2 separate regions of the Homo sapiens genome follow, and region 1 is linked to region 2. The links come from fine-mapping of genetic effects on gene expression. A gene starts in region 2. The other region holds a variant in brackets. All regions are shown on one strand. Distances are between the middles of the regions.

Region 1 (8,530 bases), 59 kb before region 2:
ACTGAGTAACACCGATCTTAACTAGAGGCCTGTAGTATCATGATCTAACACAACAAAACTATAATGAGTGTTGAAAGACTGTGGAGAAAAAAATAAATTTGGGGAAACATAACAGATGTGAATTCCATCAATCAAAAATGCTTATCTGCTGGTGAGGCTCTATTCTGCTGAGCCCTGTATTAAAATCTGGAGTGAAAATAAAACTGAACCCAAAATCCCTAACACTAAAGACGGAAAAATGCAGAAAAGAGGCTAAATAGCTATTTTAAAAGAGTTAAAAGCAAACAAAATGAAATCTTTAAAAACTGAAAATTTAAAAATCATATATAAAGAGACAGCTATCCAACTAGAGATAATGCTAGATCCTAGTAGGACAGTCAGGCAAGACATTACAGAAGACAGACATTTTCAGCTCTATTACAAGGAAAGAGAATGGCTGTTTCTTTTCTTTTCTCTTCTTTTTTATTTTTTATTTTATTTTATCTTTTTTTTTGAGACCGAGTTTTTGCTCTGTTGTCCAGGCTGGAGTGCAATGGCATGATCTTGGCTCACTGCAACCTCCGCCTCCTGGGTTCAAGTGATTCTCCTGCCTCAGCCTCCCAAGTAGCTGGGATTACAGGCATCTGCCACCACACTTGGCTAATTTTTGTATTTTTAGTAGAAATGAGGTTTCACCACATTGGCCAGGCTGGTCTCAAACTCCTGACCTCAGGTGATCCACCTGTTTCAGCCTCCCAAAATGCTAAGATTACAGGCGTAGCCACCGCATAGGCTGAGAAAGGCTGTTTCTTATAACTTCAACTAAGACTGGGACCCTCTAATATTTAAAAGGGTTTTATTTTGTCAAAAGTAACCTCATGGTAAGGTTGTATCAGACACTTGAATAGTAAGCTTTTACATTACAGAAATGACTAAACTGTCCAGTAATCTAAGGCTAAAATTTAGGGAAAAGAAAATCAAATCTATATTAAAGAATAACCAGAAGAACTTCTTATGTAAAAATCAAACTGGAATAAGTAATTATGGATTTATCTTACTTGGCGACTGAGTCAAAGAAGTTAATTTATCCTCATTGCCATTAAAGTTGTCTTTGCTCTTTTGCACAGTATAGTATTTCTCAAATTGTTCTCCTTGCCATGCCTCTAATCCTGCCTGCCTTTCTCTGGAAGTAATATAATGCAAGAGCCCACTAGTGAAGAGAAAGCCTAAGAAGGAAGTTTTAGGCCCTTCCAAGCCCACAAAATGCAAACCTTTTAACAGTGACATTTTAATTTCCATCACAGTACACACTACCTATGTATCTTCTAGAACAGTAACTGCATATTTGCCTAGGATTTCCTGAAATTAACGTTACAGGAAGCCTCCAACTTGCAAAAGAGTTGGGTCCCAAAAGTTCACTTCTAAGCTAAGTATCTGTAACTCTGAATATGTTTTTACCCAAAATCAATGTTTCATATGGAATTTAGGTTTTCAGGTTTGTCCACAAAGGGTTTGTCCCTAAAGCAAATTCAATATCTTATTTTGCATTTTAAAATATCTTTTAAAAATACTATTGAGATACAACTAATTATGCAAATCAAAAAATATTGAGTAATAACTCTAAAACAATATCGTGAATTAAGATGGAGTGCATAAAAATGACATGGTAAATGGAGACTTGAGGATATCCTGAACTTAACTTTTGGATTACTTGAGGATTTTGGGAACTAGTGACATTAGTTCTTTATTAGATCTAATGTGATTTTAAAATGTATGACTCTTATTTCTCTTGAAATACAATAAATCATTAGCACTAAAACCACAGAACATCCAAGGTTGGAAAAGACTTCAGAGATCATATTCAATCTGACCTTAATTTGGAGATGGAGAAATTGAGACTCATATGGATGGACTAACCTGACATAAGTTATCCAACTAATTAGTTCCGGAGCTGATATCCCATCCTGTATCTTTTCCACCATAACAATGCTTATCAATTATTATCAAGACCAGGTTTTTGCTCAGAATAAGGTGAAAAAAATTACTACAACCATTTTATCAGCATAATTTAGCACTATCTAGTGAAGTTGAAGATGCGCATGACTATTGCATGGGCACATGAAGGAGTTTTTGTTTCTTTTTCTTTTTCTTTTTTTTTTTTAAGATGTAGTCTCACTCTATGGCCCCGGCTGGAGTGAGTGCGTGCAGTGGCAAGATCTAAGCTGGCTGCAACCTCCGCCTCCCACATACAAGCAATTCTCCTGTCTCAGCCTCCCGACTAGCTGGGATTACAGGCATGTGCCACCACCCCTGGCTAACTTTTATACTTTTAGTAGAGATGGGGTTTCACCATGTTGGTCATGGTGAACTCCTGACCTCAAGTGATCTGCCCGCCTTGGACTCCCAAAGTGCTGGGATTACAGGCGTGAGCCACCACACCCAGCAGAAAATTTTTCATAATGGTAAAAAATGAGTAATGTATTAAACATCCATCGGTGGGGAAAAGGATAACTGATATAATCATGTGATGTAATGCCATGTTGTAGTTTAAATCAATGAGCTAAATATAAATTTATCAATATAGACACATTTCCAAAACACAATAAAGGAAAAACCAAGTTGAAGAATCATATGCAGGATATATTCAAATTTATGCAAATGTTAAAACCCACAAAAATGTATTGTTTGTAGCACACATAAATAAGAGTACAAATGGTAAAAAGAATAATATGCACCACCTTCAGGAGAGTAGATGGATTTGGGGTGGATGGAAAAGAATGGAATTGGAAAGAAGTACAAAGGAGACTCCAAATATATGTTTTTATTTCTTTAAAAAATTAATTCTGAGAGATAGGATCATGGATATTGGTTATATTCTGCAAGTTTGAAATATTTTGTTAACATTTTTAAAAAGAAAATAATCCTCCTCCCCCCAAAAAGGAAAATCTAAAAATGAAAGTGATAGGATTGAATAATTATTTGAAGTAATTATGACAGTGTTGGGAAAGAGGGAATACATATATGCACATGAGAGAAAAAAATTGGTTAGGGTAAAAGGAGGCAAATGCAAGTATAAATGACAAAGGAAAATTGAAACAGATAGTAAATAAAGGAGACTGTGAATTTTGGATCAGATAGTTTTCCAGGCTCACTGTGAGGTAATGGTATGGACTCAAGACAGCTTGGTTGCTGCTGGGATATTTTTACAATGGAAAAAGGAGTAGGGAGGTTATTAGGAGGTACTGATGCCAAGATCCCAAGGGGAATGTAATGAGACATCATGCACATGTGACTTAGAGACTGCCTCTAATTATTTGATTTCTTACATCTCCCTTCAATTTATTCCTAATAATGGGTGTTTCTGCCTTCTTAAATAAATTTATGTGCAGTGTCTGGTTTAAAAATGTTCAAGAAAAGGAATCTAAAAAATGGCCTAATGATCATGGATTTGTTAATGTAAATCTTACCTTTTAACTTCCCTTTAACTGCAGCATACCTGCTACTCATAAGAGTCTGGTTAAATATACTAGCTTACATACTGTCCTACTGAAAGAGCTCCTACTCATTTGGCATACATTATTTTCTTTGGTCTGATTCATAAAAGATAGGATGGTAAAAAAATATTTTGCCTCAAGGACATCATTTTTTTTTTACTCTCTCTTAGAGGTGGGGTCTCGCTCTGTCATCCAGGCTGGAGTGCAGTTGTGCAATCTCGGATCACTGCAGCATCCTACCCTCAGCCTCCTGAGTAGCTGGGAACACAGTCGTGTACCACCCTGCCTGGCTAGATTCTCTCTCTTTTTTTTTTTGATTGTTAATAAAGACAAGCTCTTACAATTTTGTCCAGGCTGGTCTTGAACTTCTGGCTCAAGCAATCCTCCTGGTTCGGCCTCCCAAAGTGCCAGGATTACAGGCATGAGCCATCGTGGCTGGCCAATGACATGATCTTATATCCAGAAAACCCTAAATAACTCACATCTACAAACTACTAGAGCTATTAAATAAATTTAGCAAAGTTCCAGGGTATAAAAATAACAAAATCAGTTGTATTTCTATATACTGGCAATGAACAATCTGAAAAGGAAATTAAGAAAACAATCTATAATAAGAGCAAAAAGAATACTTCAATTATTCCTCCTTGGAATAAATTTAACCAAGGAAGCATAAAAACATGAACAATGAAAACTACAAAACATTGCTGGGGCTGGGCACGGTGGCTCACGCCTGTAATCTCAGCATTTGGGAGGCCAAGGTGGGTGGATTGCTTGAGCTCAGGAGTTCGAGACCAGCCTGGCCAACATGGCGAAGCCCCGTCTCTATTAAAAATACAAAAATTAGCTGGGTGTGGTGGTGCACGCCTGTAACTCCAGCTACTTGGGAGGCTGAGGCAGGAGAATTGCTCGAAACTGTGAGGCAGAAGTTGCAGTGAGCCGAGATTATTGTGCCACTACACTCTGGCCTGGGCAACGAAGTGAAAGTTTGTCTCAAAAAAAAAAAAAAAAAAAAATCGCTGGGAGA[A/AT]TTTTTTTTTTTTTTTTTTTTTAGACAGTCTTGCTCTGTTGCCCAGGCTGGAGTGCAGTGGCGCGATCTTGGCTCACTACAAGCTCCGCCTTCTGGGTTCACGCCATTCTCCTGCCTCAGCCTCCAGAGTAGCTGGGACTACAGGCGCCTGCCACCACGCCAAGCTAATTTTTTGTATTTTTAGTAGAGACGGGTTTCACCGTGTTAGCCAGGATGGTCTCGATCTCCTGACCTCGTGATCCACCTGCCTCGGCCTCCCAAAGTGCTAGGATTACAGGTGTGGGATTACTGCACCCAGCCAGAAATTTTTAAAGACCTAAATAAATAGAAAGACATTATGTGTTCAGGAGCTAGAAAACTTAATATTGTCAAGGTGACAATATGACTCCAAACAATATACAGATCCAATACAATTTGTATCAAAATCCCAATGGTGTTTTGTACAGAAATGGAAAAACCTGTCCTAAAATCCATATGATTTCAAAGGACCCAGAATAGCAAAAATAATCTAAAAAAGACAAACAAACAAAAAAAACAAAAACCAGTTGGAGGACTCACATTTCCTGCAGCTTATTACAAAGCTCAGTAATCAAAACACTGCAGTACTGGCCTAAGGACAGACATATATAGACCAATGGAATAGAACTGACAGCCCAGAAATAAACATTCATATCTACAGCAAATTGATTTTCAACAAGGGTGCCAAGACAACAGGGAAAGGTCAGTCTTTTCACCAAATGGTACTGGGATAACTGGATATCCATAGGCCAAAAAAATGAAGTTGGGCCCTTACTTTATACTATATACAAACAATAACTCAGAATAGATCCGAGACCTAAATAAGATATAAAGCTATAAAACTTTTTTTTTTTTTTTTTTTAGATGGAGTCTTGCTCTGTCACCAGGCTGGAGCGCAATGACGCGATCTTGGCTCACTGCAACCTCCGCCTCCTGGGTTCAAGCGATTCTCCTGCCTTAGCCTCCCAAGTAGCTGGGACTACAGGAACGCACCACCACGCCCAGCTAATTTTTGTATTTTTAGTAAAGACAGGGTTTCACCATGTTGGCCAGGATGGTCTCGATTTCTAGACCTCGTGATCTGCCTGCCTCAGCCTCCCAAAGTGCTGGGATTACAGGTGTGAGCCGCTGCGCCTGGCCACAACTCTTAAATATAGGGACAAATCTGCATGACCATGGATTTGGCAATGATTTCTTAATTAAAACCACAAGGAGCTACCACCTCACACCTGTAAGAATAGTTTTTAGCAAAAAGACAAAAGACTGAGTGTTGGTGAGCATGTAGAGAAAAGGGAACCCTTGTACACTGTTAGTGGGAATGTAAATTAGCACAGTGATTATGGAAAGCAGTATGGAGGTTTCTCAAAAAATTAAAATTAGAACTACGATATGACCTGGCAATCCCACTAATGATACACATCCAAAGGAAATGAAATGAATATGTGAAAGAGATATGTACTTTTCATGTTCATTGCAACATTATTCACAACAGCTAAGATAAGGAATCAACCCAAGTGTCCGTCAGTGGGTGAATGGAAAATGTGGCATGTGTACACAATGGAATACTATTCAGCCTTCAAAAAGAAGGAAATCCTGTCATTTGCAACAACATGGATGAACATAGAGAACATTACACTCAATGAAATAAGGCAGGCACAGAAAGACAGAAGTTGTATGATCTCATTTATGTGTGGTATCTGAAAAAAAACAGAACTCAGAAGCAGAGAATACAATGGTGCTTTCCAGGGGCTGGAGAGGTGAGGAATTGGAGAAATATTGGTCAGAAGATACAAATTATCAGCTGAAATCTGGTGATGGATATGTTATCTAGCTTGATGTATTCATTCTACAATGTATGCATATATCAAAACATCACATTGTATACCATAAATATAATTTTTCATTTGTCAATTATAAAATAAATATTTTAAAAGCAAAAAACCCCTCAACAATAAAATGACACCAAAAGCTTTTACAGGAAACAAAAGAAAAATAAATTGGACTTTACTAAAATTCAGAACTTATGTGTATCAAAGGACGCTATCAAGAGTGACAGAGAAAATATTTGCAAATCATAAACCTGATAAGAATTTAGATAATCTAAAATTGTTTTATTAGAAACCTGATAATAATCTACAACATATAAAGAACTGCTATAACTTAACAACAAAAAGACAAACGACCCAATTTTGAAATGAGAACTAGAAAACTTAATATTGTCAAGGACTTGAATAGCCATTTACTCAAAGAAGATGTACAAATGGCCAATAAACACATGAAAAAATGCTTATCATTAATTATTAGGGAAATGCAAAACCACGATGAGATATTATTTTATACTCATTAAGATGATTATAATTAAAAAAAAACCAGAAAACAACAAGTGTTGGTGAGGATGTGAAGACACTGGAACCCTTTCGCACACTGCTGGTGGGAATATAAAATGATGCAGCCTCTATGGAAAACAGTTGAACAGCTCCTCAAAAAGTTATACATAGAATTACCATGACTCAGCAACTCTACTCCCAGTTATATACCCCAAAGAATTGAAAAGAGGGACTCAAACAGATACTTGTATGCCAATGTTCATACCAGCATTATTCACAATAGCCAAAAGGTGGAAACAACGTGAAGTGTCCATCAGCAGACAGATACACAGATGAACAAAATGTGGGATATAGATACAGCAAAATATTACTTAGCCATAAAAAGGAATGAAGTACTGATAGATGTTACAGCATGGATGAACCATTGTGCTAAGTGAAAAAAGCCAGACAAAAAAGGACAAATATTATATGATTCCACTTGTATGAAATATTTAGAATAGGCAAAATTCATACAGACAGAAAAATAGATAAGGGCCTAGGCAGAGAGGGGGAAATGGGGAGTAAGTGCTTAATAGGTACAGAATTTCTGCTTGGGATGATGAAAAAGTTCTGGAAATAGATAGTGATGTTCCCATAATTATTTCCTTATGACAAGTTTCTACGAGTAGCCGGGTATGGTGGCTCTTGCCTGTAACTCTAGCACTTTGGGAGGCTGAGTTGGGAGGATCGCTTGAGCCCCAGGTATTTGAGACAAGCCTGGACAACGTAGCAAGACATCATTTCTTAAAAAAAAAAAGTATATAATAAGATACTGAACAATAATATACTTGATTATCAACACATCTCTGGGTAATCTGCTGAAAGCCCAAGGCAAATAAGTGTATCAGTTTATAGCCACTGCTAACATTTTACAAACAAAATAATTAGTAATAGTTATGATTGATTGGACACATACTGGCCAGTCACACTAGACTATAAGCTATTGAGACCAGGGCTATTTTATTATTAAAGAAACAAAAAACAAAAAGGACTTCCAGTTAGCACACTGCTTTATACAACTGCTTAAACAATGCTGTTTAAACTAAAAGAGACTTTACACTGCTAGAAGTTTGTGAAAAAAGAGGGTCCCCAAGCTGAATATTTTAGAGTCAGAGTAGAATAATTGAAAATGAATCACACTGCTATTTATAATGATAATTACAGCATGGTTTGTAATAGAAAACATTTGGAAACAACCCAAATGCCCATCAAAAAGGAATTGGTACAATTACACACTTTACTAATGTGTAGCTAATATAACAAGAAGCAGATCTATAGGAAGGAAGTCCTACTAAAGTACTGTTAAGTAACACGTAATGTGCATACGTATATGCATAATGTGTTACATTTTAAAATAATGTTAATAATATAAACAACATTAAAAAAGATCATGGAAAAAATCTAGAAGAATATGCCCAAACTGCTTATAGTGGCTATATGTTAGGGAAAAGGTTGGTATGGTTTGTAACTTTTATATTTGTTTGGGGGCATCTATTTTCTAAGTTGTATATTACTATATTGTTTAACACTGTTGTTTAACATGTATACATGCAAATACACACACACACACACAAACATACACACACACATTTTTTTTCAGACAGGGTCTCACTCTGTCGCCGAAGCTGGAGTGCAGTGGCACAATCACG
Region 2 (8,530 bases):
CCATGGGGCACCGCTCCTCCCTCGGGGTCCGCGCCTGCACCCGACGCTCAAAGCCCCTCTCGGAGTCCCACGCTCGCATGCGCTGTCCCGAGCCCTCTGGGGGTCCCCTCCTCTCACCCCGCTGTCCTGGCCCCTCTCGGGGTCACCCTGCTCCCACCCGCTGTCCCGGCCTCTCTCTAGGTGTCCTGCTCTCAGCCCCGCTGTCTCAGCCCAGCCCCCTTCCGGGACCCCTCCTCTTCTCCCACTGTCTTGGCCCTTCCTGGGGTCTTCTCACACTCTGTTCTAAGCCCTCTGGGGATCCCCTGTCTTCACATCCCCTGACCGGTCCCCTCTCTTTACTCTGTCCTGGATTCTCTCTGGGTCCCCTCCCCTCACCTCGGGGTCTCCTCTCCCCGGGTGCTGTCCCAGCCCCTCTCGGGGTCCCCATCTCTCAGACTCTCAGTGCCGGCCCCTCTCGGGGACCCTTCCCCTCTCCCCGCTGTCCCTGACCTTTTCTGGGACCTGGTCCTTCAGGGGACCCCCTCCCCTCATCCCCCTATCCTAGTGCCTCATGAGGCACCCACCCCTCACCCCACTACCCCAGCCCCTCTCCGGGTCCCTTCCTCTCACGCGCACTGTCCCGGCCCCTCTTGGAGACCCCTCCCCTCAGACTTTCAGTCTTGGACCCTCTCGGAGTCCTCTCCACTCAGAGCCACTGCCTCGGTCCCTCTCGGAGTCCCCTCTCCTCACCCGCTGTCCCGGTCCCTCCCGGGGTCTCCTCTCCACAGTCTGCACTGTCGAGCCCGCTCCCGCAACTCCCCTCACTCTGCCTGGGGTCCCGCCGCCTCGGCTCCCACTGTCATGCCCCGCGCCCCGGTGCTCTCACCTCAGACCTGCTGTCACCACCCCCGGGCCCGGCGCCGCCGCCGCCGCTTCCTCTCCCACACTTGTTCCTGAGTCGCTCTCCTGTGGCTTGTTCCCCGGCGGATCCTTGGGTCCGGTCGCTGAGTGCCGGATCCGGCTGTGCGCAGCCTCTGCTCGCGGTCTCGGCGTTGCGTCCCACTCTCCACGCAGGACCCCGCCGCCCGGCGCCACAAGGACCCTCCCGCGGCCGCCGCCGCTGCTGCTGTCCGAGGTGCGGCTCCTGCCAGGGGTGGCCAATCGCACCGGACTGCGCCGAGCACGCCCCGCCCCACCGTCTCAGTCCGCCCGCCCCCTGCCCCGGACCACGCCCCAAGCTCGGCTCCAATAGGCTCTCTACTGACCTTCCCTGATCGCGGGGCACAGGGCCGGGGCCGTATATAGGTATTTGATTGATGGAGCCTGGGAAGCCGAGCGGTCGATGGAACCCGAGGATTGGCGGAGTTGTCGATGGGCGGGACAGGGCAGGGCGGGGTCTCCTCAGACGCGGAAGACCTTGCAACTTTAGTAACCTACGGGCCCGCCTGGGGTGCGGTCAGTCTTGTTTGTGCTGCTCTCCGGTCAAAGTTCATGGCGCTTCTCCCCACGCCTTTACTTTTCTTGGGAGATTCCCAGGGACCACCATGTTAGAGCCTTTGGGGAGGACCCCAGTCTCTCGCTAGACCTTGCACAGCTTTCTTAGTAATTCTGCCATGAACTAATATAGCATTAATTTGCCCAGGATTTGTAAAAATTTCCTGGATTTAAACCATTTCTTTTTAAAATCTCTTGCAAGGGAGTTGCCTCTCCTTGAATTGAGTTCAGCAGCCGTCAGTTTGATACCGTTGGGGGAAAAAAAATCTATATACAGTACTAGGTGCATACTTTGCCCAACTAAGCGTTCAATGCGGGGCACATTTTGATAGGTGCAAGGACAAAGCTTTAGAAATTTTCAGTTTGTAGGTTTTTATGACAGTAGGAAGACTGTGGTAGGGGAACCCTATTATTAGCTTAACAAGGTTTCAGCAAAGCTATTCAATATAACCTTTTTCCAGGGCCACAGGTTTTAATGATTCTATGTGAACGTGTGGCCAAAGGATAACGAGCTTTGACCCAGGTTTAACATGTGATAATCAGAGACTCCTCTTGATCCACGCTAAAGGATAGTGCCTGCCAGGGGTGAAAGTGCATCATGCTACTAAGACCCATTTGTGTTATTTTTGTGAAACTGGATATGCTGATCAAATCAACACCGGAAACAGAAAACTGCTTTCCTTACTCTTAACGCCAAAAGTAAGTTTATGGACTTTAGAATTTAGCATTTTATGAAGAAATTGTCTCAGGAACACATTTTGATCCTAAGTTTTGTCAGATGTATACAGGCCTTAGTTCTCAGAGAACCCTCGATTGTTAACTTTTTAACTCCAGCTGACAAAATGTGTTTGTGTTCTAAACAGTATACATGTTTCTTCTAGTGTTTTAAGAATCATACGCCATTCATCACCTGAGGTCAAGGGTTCCAGACCTGCCTGGCCAACATGGTGAAATCCCGTCTGTACGAAAAATACAAAAATTAGCCGGGCATGGTGGCACCCACCTGTAATCCCAGCTACTAGAAAGGCTGAGGCAGGAGAATCACTTGAACCCGGAGGCGGAGGTTGCAGTGAGTCGAGATCGCATCACTTCACTCCAGCCTGGGTGAAAGAGCAAAACTCCGTCTCAAAAAAAGAAAAAAAGAAAAAGAAAAAAAAGAATCATACTCCATTCCAATTGTGATGTCCCCCTTTAAAGTTTCAGTTTGGGTGTTAGGGTAGGCAGAGAAGGCCTGGAAGCAAAGAAGTTGTGGAAATGGGGCTGGCAGGGCTTCGTTTCAAGTCAAGTCGAGTTCCTGAGCGGTGTGGCTGAGTACCGTTTTGAGAAGGGATATATAAAAAGATTTCAAGGTGGTAAAACTTGGTTTTGAGGGAACTTGATTTTTACAGGAGTATAGCGACTGTCCAAAATCATATTAAATAAATCTAAAGGTTAGGTAAGACTAAAGCCATAAGAGAATTTTTTTGAGTAGGTCCACCTTCACTAAAGAGCATTTTTTAGTTCTGCAGCTGGCAATCTGGACAGAAAAAAATGGGGTAAGTTTTCATAACCCAAGTGCTCAGTTGTGTCTATTCATTACATATAAAAAAGAAATGCATGACCATTAACAGATGCTGTTTGCAGTCAAGAAGACAGCAGTAAAACATAAGCAGGATAAAAATCTCAGCGTCTTGAAAGGAAACCATTTAGCAACGAAATAAACTTAAAAATTAATTGTATCAATGAACTCTTGATTTCTAAAATCTTTGCTTTTTCTGCACTATGATTACTGCTACTGACAGGAACGCAAGTTACTCAATATAGTTGATTGCAAGTAATTTAGATGTTCTCCAACAGCACAAAGAAAGAAAATGACTTCATCTTTTGGACAAGAGACAGTTCTGGAATCCTAGTTTAAATATAGATGGCAGACCTACGGTGCGATCTGAGAATGATTCTTATTTAGAAGGGGCTTCAGAAGATCTCAGAACTCCTGGAAAGACATCTTAGCATTCCATTCTGGAAATTCTTTAGTTTTGTTGGGAGAAAAAATCACTTACAAATAGAGCCAAGATTTTAATTAAAACAAGGTAGTAAATAAATGTCAAAATAAGTGGGATGAGAATAACGTTTCATTTTCAGAAGAGTCCATAGGGAACAATTCAGAGATAAATTTAATCACAAAAGGTCTGAGAATGGGAATATTCGGTTCCACCCTGGTTTTCACATCTGTTCATTTTCACTACTGGTTGCGTTTCCTACGGAGACTCGGGTGGAACATAAAAGTGGGGCTACTTTGGACAAACCATTAAAAACCTTACCCTTTTTTCTCGCTACACACAACTAGACCACATTGCTCTTAGCTAAAGGGACACCTTAAATCTATTCGTTCAGCAAAACTTATAACACCGTGTTCCTTTTCTACTCAGAGGGAATCGCACAAATTAATTCTTGCAGATACTCAGCTCTCCTGTTTTTTAAGCTTCCACGTGGGCCTTAGCCAAATAACTTCTGGTAGGCAAATTCTCCCCTTCTTCAGTTGAGAGCTCAGAGCAAGCTGTTGGATTAAGCAAAAGCACCTTTTAAAAAATTAATATTCAAGGCAGCTGTACCGCGGAGGGCCTGGGTCTCGGAGTCTAAAAAATCAGACTGGACGTTACTATTTTTTTTTAGGCAAACGACAGCTCGTTTCTCATTTGTAAAACCGGGGGAACATCTTACCGAATAAACCTTACACAAACAGAAAGGATTCCTAAGGGCTGGGAAAATACTATTTTGCTGTCCCCAGGATGGAATATCAGCATCCTTGTCTTTTAGCTCTTAATAAAGCTCTAACTAGTCACAGGAGGAGCCAGGCTGCATGATCACGCACACTCTGGACGTCTAGGTTTTCCGACCTAATAAGGGGGCAGGTCGCGTCGTTCCCTGCTTAAATTAGAGACCACCTCCACCTGCCAAGGGCCCTTCAAACCCTCCGCCCCTAGGTCGCTAACGATCACCGCTTTAGTTCTAGCTCCAGGCGCCGCCTGGCGGCTGTCTCCGGAAGTCGCCTGCGAGCCTCGGGGTCCTGACCGCTGCTGGGCCTGCCCGTAGATTTGCCTGACTCTAGCGAACCTGGCTCCGCCCCTCCCCCACTATACGTTGAGGATTTTAAGACGGCGATGAAAGGGCTGAGGTTGTGGCGACGGGGGCGTCCAGCGGCATCTCCACTCCCCCAAGGATGGCGGAATCAGGCCGTTGTCGGGCAGCTCTCGACCCGGAAGTCGCTCGCGGCGCGAGGCCCCCGTTGCCGAGCGCGGGCGCGGGGGGCGGAGCTCGGCGGAGACGGGGAAGGGGTCGCCGTGGCTGCCGGTCCTCGAGTTGGGGGCTGCCGCGGACACTGCTAGGCAGACGGCGAGTACCGAGCGCGGGTGGCCGCGGTGTCCGTGGGCCACGCTCAGCTGCGGTCAGAGGCGACATGAGTGCCGCGGGGCTGCTGGCCCCGGCCCCGGCCCAGGCTGGAGCGCCGCCGGCCCCCGAGTACTACCCCGAGGAGGATGAAGAGCTGGAGAGCGCCGAGGACGACGAGCGCAGCTGTCGGGGCCGCGAGTCGGACGAAGGTGAGTCCTGCCGCTCGCCCGGCCGCCCGGAGCGGAGGTGGGACCGCTGGGGGAGGGGGTGGGGCTGTTCGGGAGAGGGGCGGGGCGGCCTCCGGGGCCTGGGGCTGCGTGGAGGGGCCGCCGGGAGTTGCGGGGCTCGGGGAAGTTACCCCCATCCGTGCTGGAGTAGCGGGGAAGCCCTGGGTGCGTTACACTCGACCGTGATGGGGAGAGGGGACTTAGATGTTGTCACGCTGGGGGTCCCTTTAAGACCCCGTCCTCCCTCCCAGCCGTTTCTGATTGAACCTCACTCACTAGTAGGAATTAGAAACTCATTTACTGAATACATCGAGTGTAGTTCGCCCCTTTTTTGTGTGTGAGAGCATCAGAGTCCAAAGTTGCCCCTCCCCACCCCCGAAATGCATAAGTCATCTATACTTTAGGTAGTACACTATTGAGAACTCAGGTTGGTTAAAGGAAAGGGACCTAGAACCAGCCAGATACAGGTTTAAATTTGGCTTTGTCACTTAACTCAGCTTTGTAAACTTAAGTTTTCCAGCCTCGATTTACCCAACTGTAATGGAGCTGTTTAATTCCCACACCTGCCCTAGAAGGCACTTCCTAGGGTCGGTATAGGGATTAAATGACATGCGCATAAAGTACTTGGCCTGGTACTGTAAATACTCCGTAAATGTTCTCCCCACCCGCCCCCCTCCCGGAAACAGGTAAGAGAGGGAGAGATTTGCTTAATGGTCCCCAGGTGTTGTGTTTTCAGTCCCACGCTCTTTGCACTGTCATCACAGAGTCTCAGAGCCTTGCTTTTCAAACTGGGCTTTATAATTTGGCAAGTGTGAGGAACGCTATTTTGGAGGGATGGAGGAGGAGGAAGGTGATGAAATGTGAGAGATCAAGGGAGGAGAAATAGGAAACAAAGAGAGACCGATATATGAGCGGAATATTCTGGGACAAAATCGGGCCGTGGAGCAAAAGCTAGACCAGCTGTTTGGAATGGGGCCTACGTTTTATTCATCTGAGTTTCCCGAGTGCCAAGTAATGTGGCTGACCATGACAGGAACTCAGGGAAGGCCTCTTGACTGAAGGAGGGGAGAAGGGTTTGTGGGGAATTGGATCTGCAACAGCCTTACAAAAGACAGCTGCATATGCATGACATACAAAGTTGAGGGACTGCATTCGATTTAATTCCATCAGAAGACACGGCTTAACCAGAGATTTTGAATGTGAAGCACTTGCACTTCATCTCATACCCACGAGGGGGCGCTGTGGAGCCAAAATTGAGTTTTTTTTTCCTTCCAGTATAGGGGCTATTAAAATTTTGTACACACCCCAGCCATTAGCTTGTTCTAAGAACAATGTTTAAGATGTTCTGAAACAGTTTTCGTTTGATCATCTGGCCTCCTCCTTGTTCCCTTTAGTTGTAACTTGGAAAATATTTATTTGTGTCAGATTCCCCTTTTTTATTGTATACAGTTGGCTCTGCGTATCTGTGGGTTCTGCATCTGTGAATTCAACCAAGCGCAGCTCAAAAATATTCAGGAAAAAAATTGGATCTGTACTGAACATGTGCAGACTTTTTTTTTGTTATTCCTAAACAGTGTAGCGTAACAACTACTTACATAGTATTTACATTTTATTGGATATTGTAAGTAATCTTTTTTTTTTTTTTTTTAAGATGGGGTCTCACTCACTCACCCAGGCTGGTGTGCAGTGTCACGATCTCAGCTCACTGCAACTTCCATCTCCTGGGTTCAAGCAGTTCTCCTGCCTCAGTCTCCGGAGTAGTTGGGATTACTGGCACCTGCCACCATGCCTGGCTAATTTTTGTGGTTTTATTTGTTGTTTTGTTTATTTTATTTTTTTTTGAGATGGAGTTTCACTCTTGTTGCCCAGGGTGGAGTGCAATGGCGCGATCTCGGCTCACCACAACCTCTGCCTCCCGAGTTCAAGCAATTCTCCTGCCTCAGCCTCCTGAGTAGCTGGGATTACAGGCATGTGCCGCCACCCCCAGCTAATTTTGTATTTTTAGTAGAGACGTGGTTTCTCCATGCTGGTCAGGCTGGTCTCGAACTCCCGACCTCAGGTGATCCACCTGCCTTTGCCTCCCAAAGTGCTGGGATTACAGGCGTGAGCCACTGCACCTGGCCCTAATTTTTGTGTTTTTAGTAGAGATGGGGTTTCACCACGTTGGCCAGGCTGGTCTGGAACTCCTGTCCTCAGGTGATTCTCCTGCTTTGGCCTTCCAAAGTGCTGGGATTACAGACATGAGCTGCCATGCCTGGCCTGGATATTCTAAGTAATCTAGAGATGATTTAAAGTGTACTGTTGGCCTGGTGCAGTGGCTCATGCCTGTAATCCCAGCACTTTGGAATGCGAAAGCAGGTGGTTCACTTGAGGCCAGGAGTTCGAGACCAGCCTGGCCAACGTGGCGAAACCTCATCTCTACTAAAAATACAAAAAGTAGCCGGGTGTGGTGGTGCACCCCTGTAATCCCAGCTATTTGGGAAGCTGAGGCAGGAGAATCGCTTGAACCCAGGAGGTGGAGGTTGCAGTGAGCCGAGATTGTGCCACTGCACTCCAGCCTGGGCGACAGAGTGAGACTGTGTCTCATTAAAAAGAAAAGTATACTGGAAGATGTGCGTAGGTTATATGCAAATACTATGCCATTTTGTCAGAGACTTGAGCAGCTGAGGATTTTGGTATCCACGGGAGGTGCAGTAACCACTCCCCCACGGATACTGAGGGACAACCGTGTATCCTGATGTAAAATGTGCGAAGGGTTCCAACTGGGTATGTATCAGAAGAGAATGTACATACTAGTTTTTTTCTGGAGCAGCGAGTAAGGCTTGACTGCCTGCAGTGTCCAGTCTTACGCCTGCATCTCCTTTCTTGAGTTGCCAGCATTGTTGTTTCTGCAGAAGTAGCAGCCTTCACCATAACTGCCTGTGCCTGAGACACCCTATTCTGTGGCTGCATTTCAGGTAAAGGCAAGCTTTTTGCATAAATCTGACTGTAAGTTGGAAATGGCCTTTTCTTTTCTGAAGTACGGCTGTCCCTCGGTATCTATGGGGGACTGGTTCCAGGACTTCATGGATACTACAACCTGAGGATACTCAAATTCTTTGCATTGGCCTTTTGTGTCCACAGGTTTCGTGTTTGCAGATAGGGATGGCCTACTAACTGTATGTAATGTTTTTCATTGATGGCTTTGTGCAAGCCTGCCTTGAATAGAAATTGATTTTACGGGAGTTTATTGAGTGCATACTCTGTGTCAGGTGACGCCAACTCCGTGAATTATGATTTTAACTAGCCCCTATTTCCTAACTTTATTCAGACACTGAGGATGCTAGTGAAACTGACCTGGCAAAGCATGATGAAGAAGACTATGTAGAAATGAAGGAACAGTGAGTATGATATGCCTATGTCTTTTTGGAACATAGAATTGACAACATCTTTATATAGATTGAGCATCCCAAATCTGAAAT

The links. PIP is the estimated chance that this variant, and not a neighbour inherited with it, causes the effect.
Region 1: its variant is fine-mapped to the expression of SUDS3 in regulatory T cells (Bossini-Castillo 2019, PIP 0.95).

Annotation. Positions count from the first base shown.
Region 1 is chr12:118,312,801-118,321,330 of GRCh38, forward strand. All of the region lies in intron 1 of TAOK3 (TAO kinase 3), which reads right to left. Among named protein-coding and RNA genes, the nearest start is that of TAOK3, 56 kb to the right of the region's middle. The variant A/AT (reference allele first, on the strand shown) is at 4,498.
Region 2 is chr12:118,371,783-118,380,312 of GRCh38, forward strand. It overlaps SUDS3 (SIN3A corepressor complex component SDS3), which reads left to right and starts at 4,773. Exons shown (of 12, transcript NM_022491.3): 1 at 4,773-5,051; 2 at 8,380-8,449. The coding sequence starts at 4,910. It overlaps TAOK3 (TAO kinase 3), which reads right to left and starts at 1,125. Exons shown (of 21, transcript NM_016281.4): 1 at 866-1,125. It overlaps LOC124903031 (a long non-coding RNA gene), which reads right to left and starts at 4,345. Exons shown (of 2, transcript XR_007063480.1): 1 at 4,174-4,345; 2 at 3,516-4,009. RefSeq lists silencers at 1-54, 155-214, 999-1,248, 4,770-4,989, 5,020-5,169 and enhancers at 1,569-1,618, 4,828-5,328.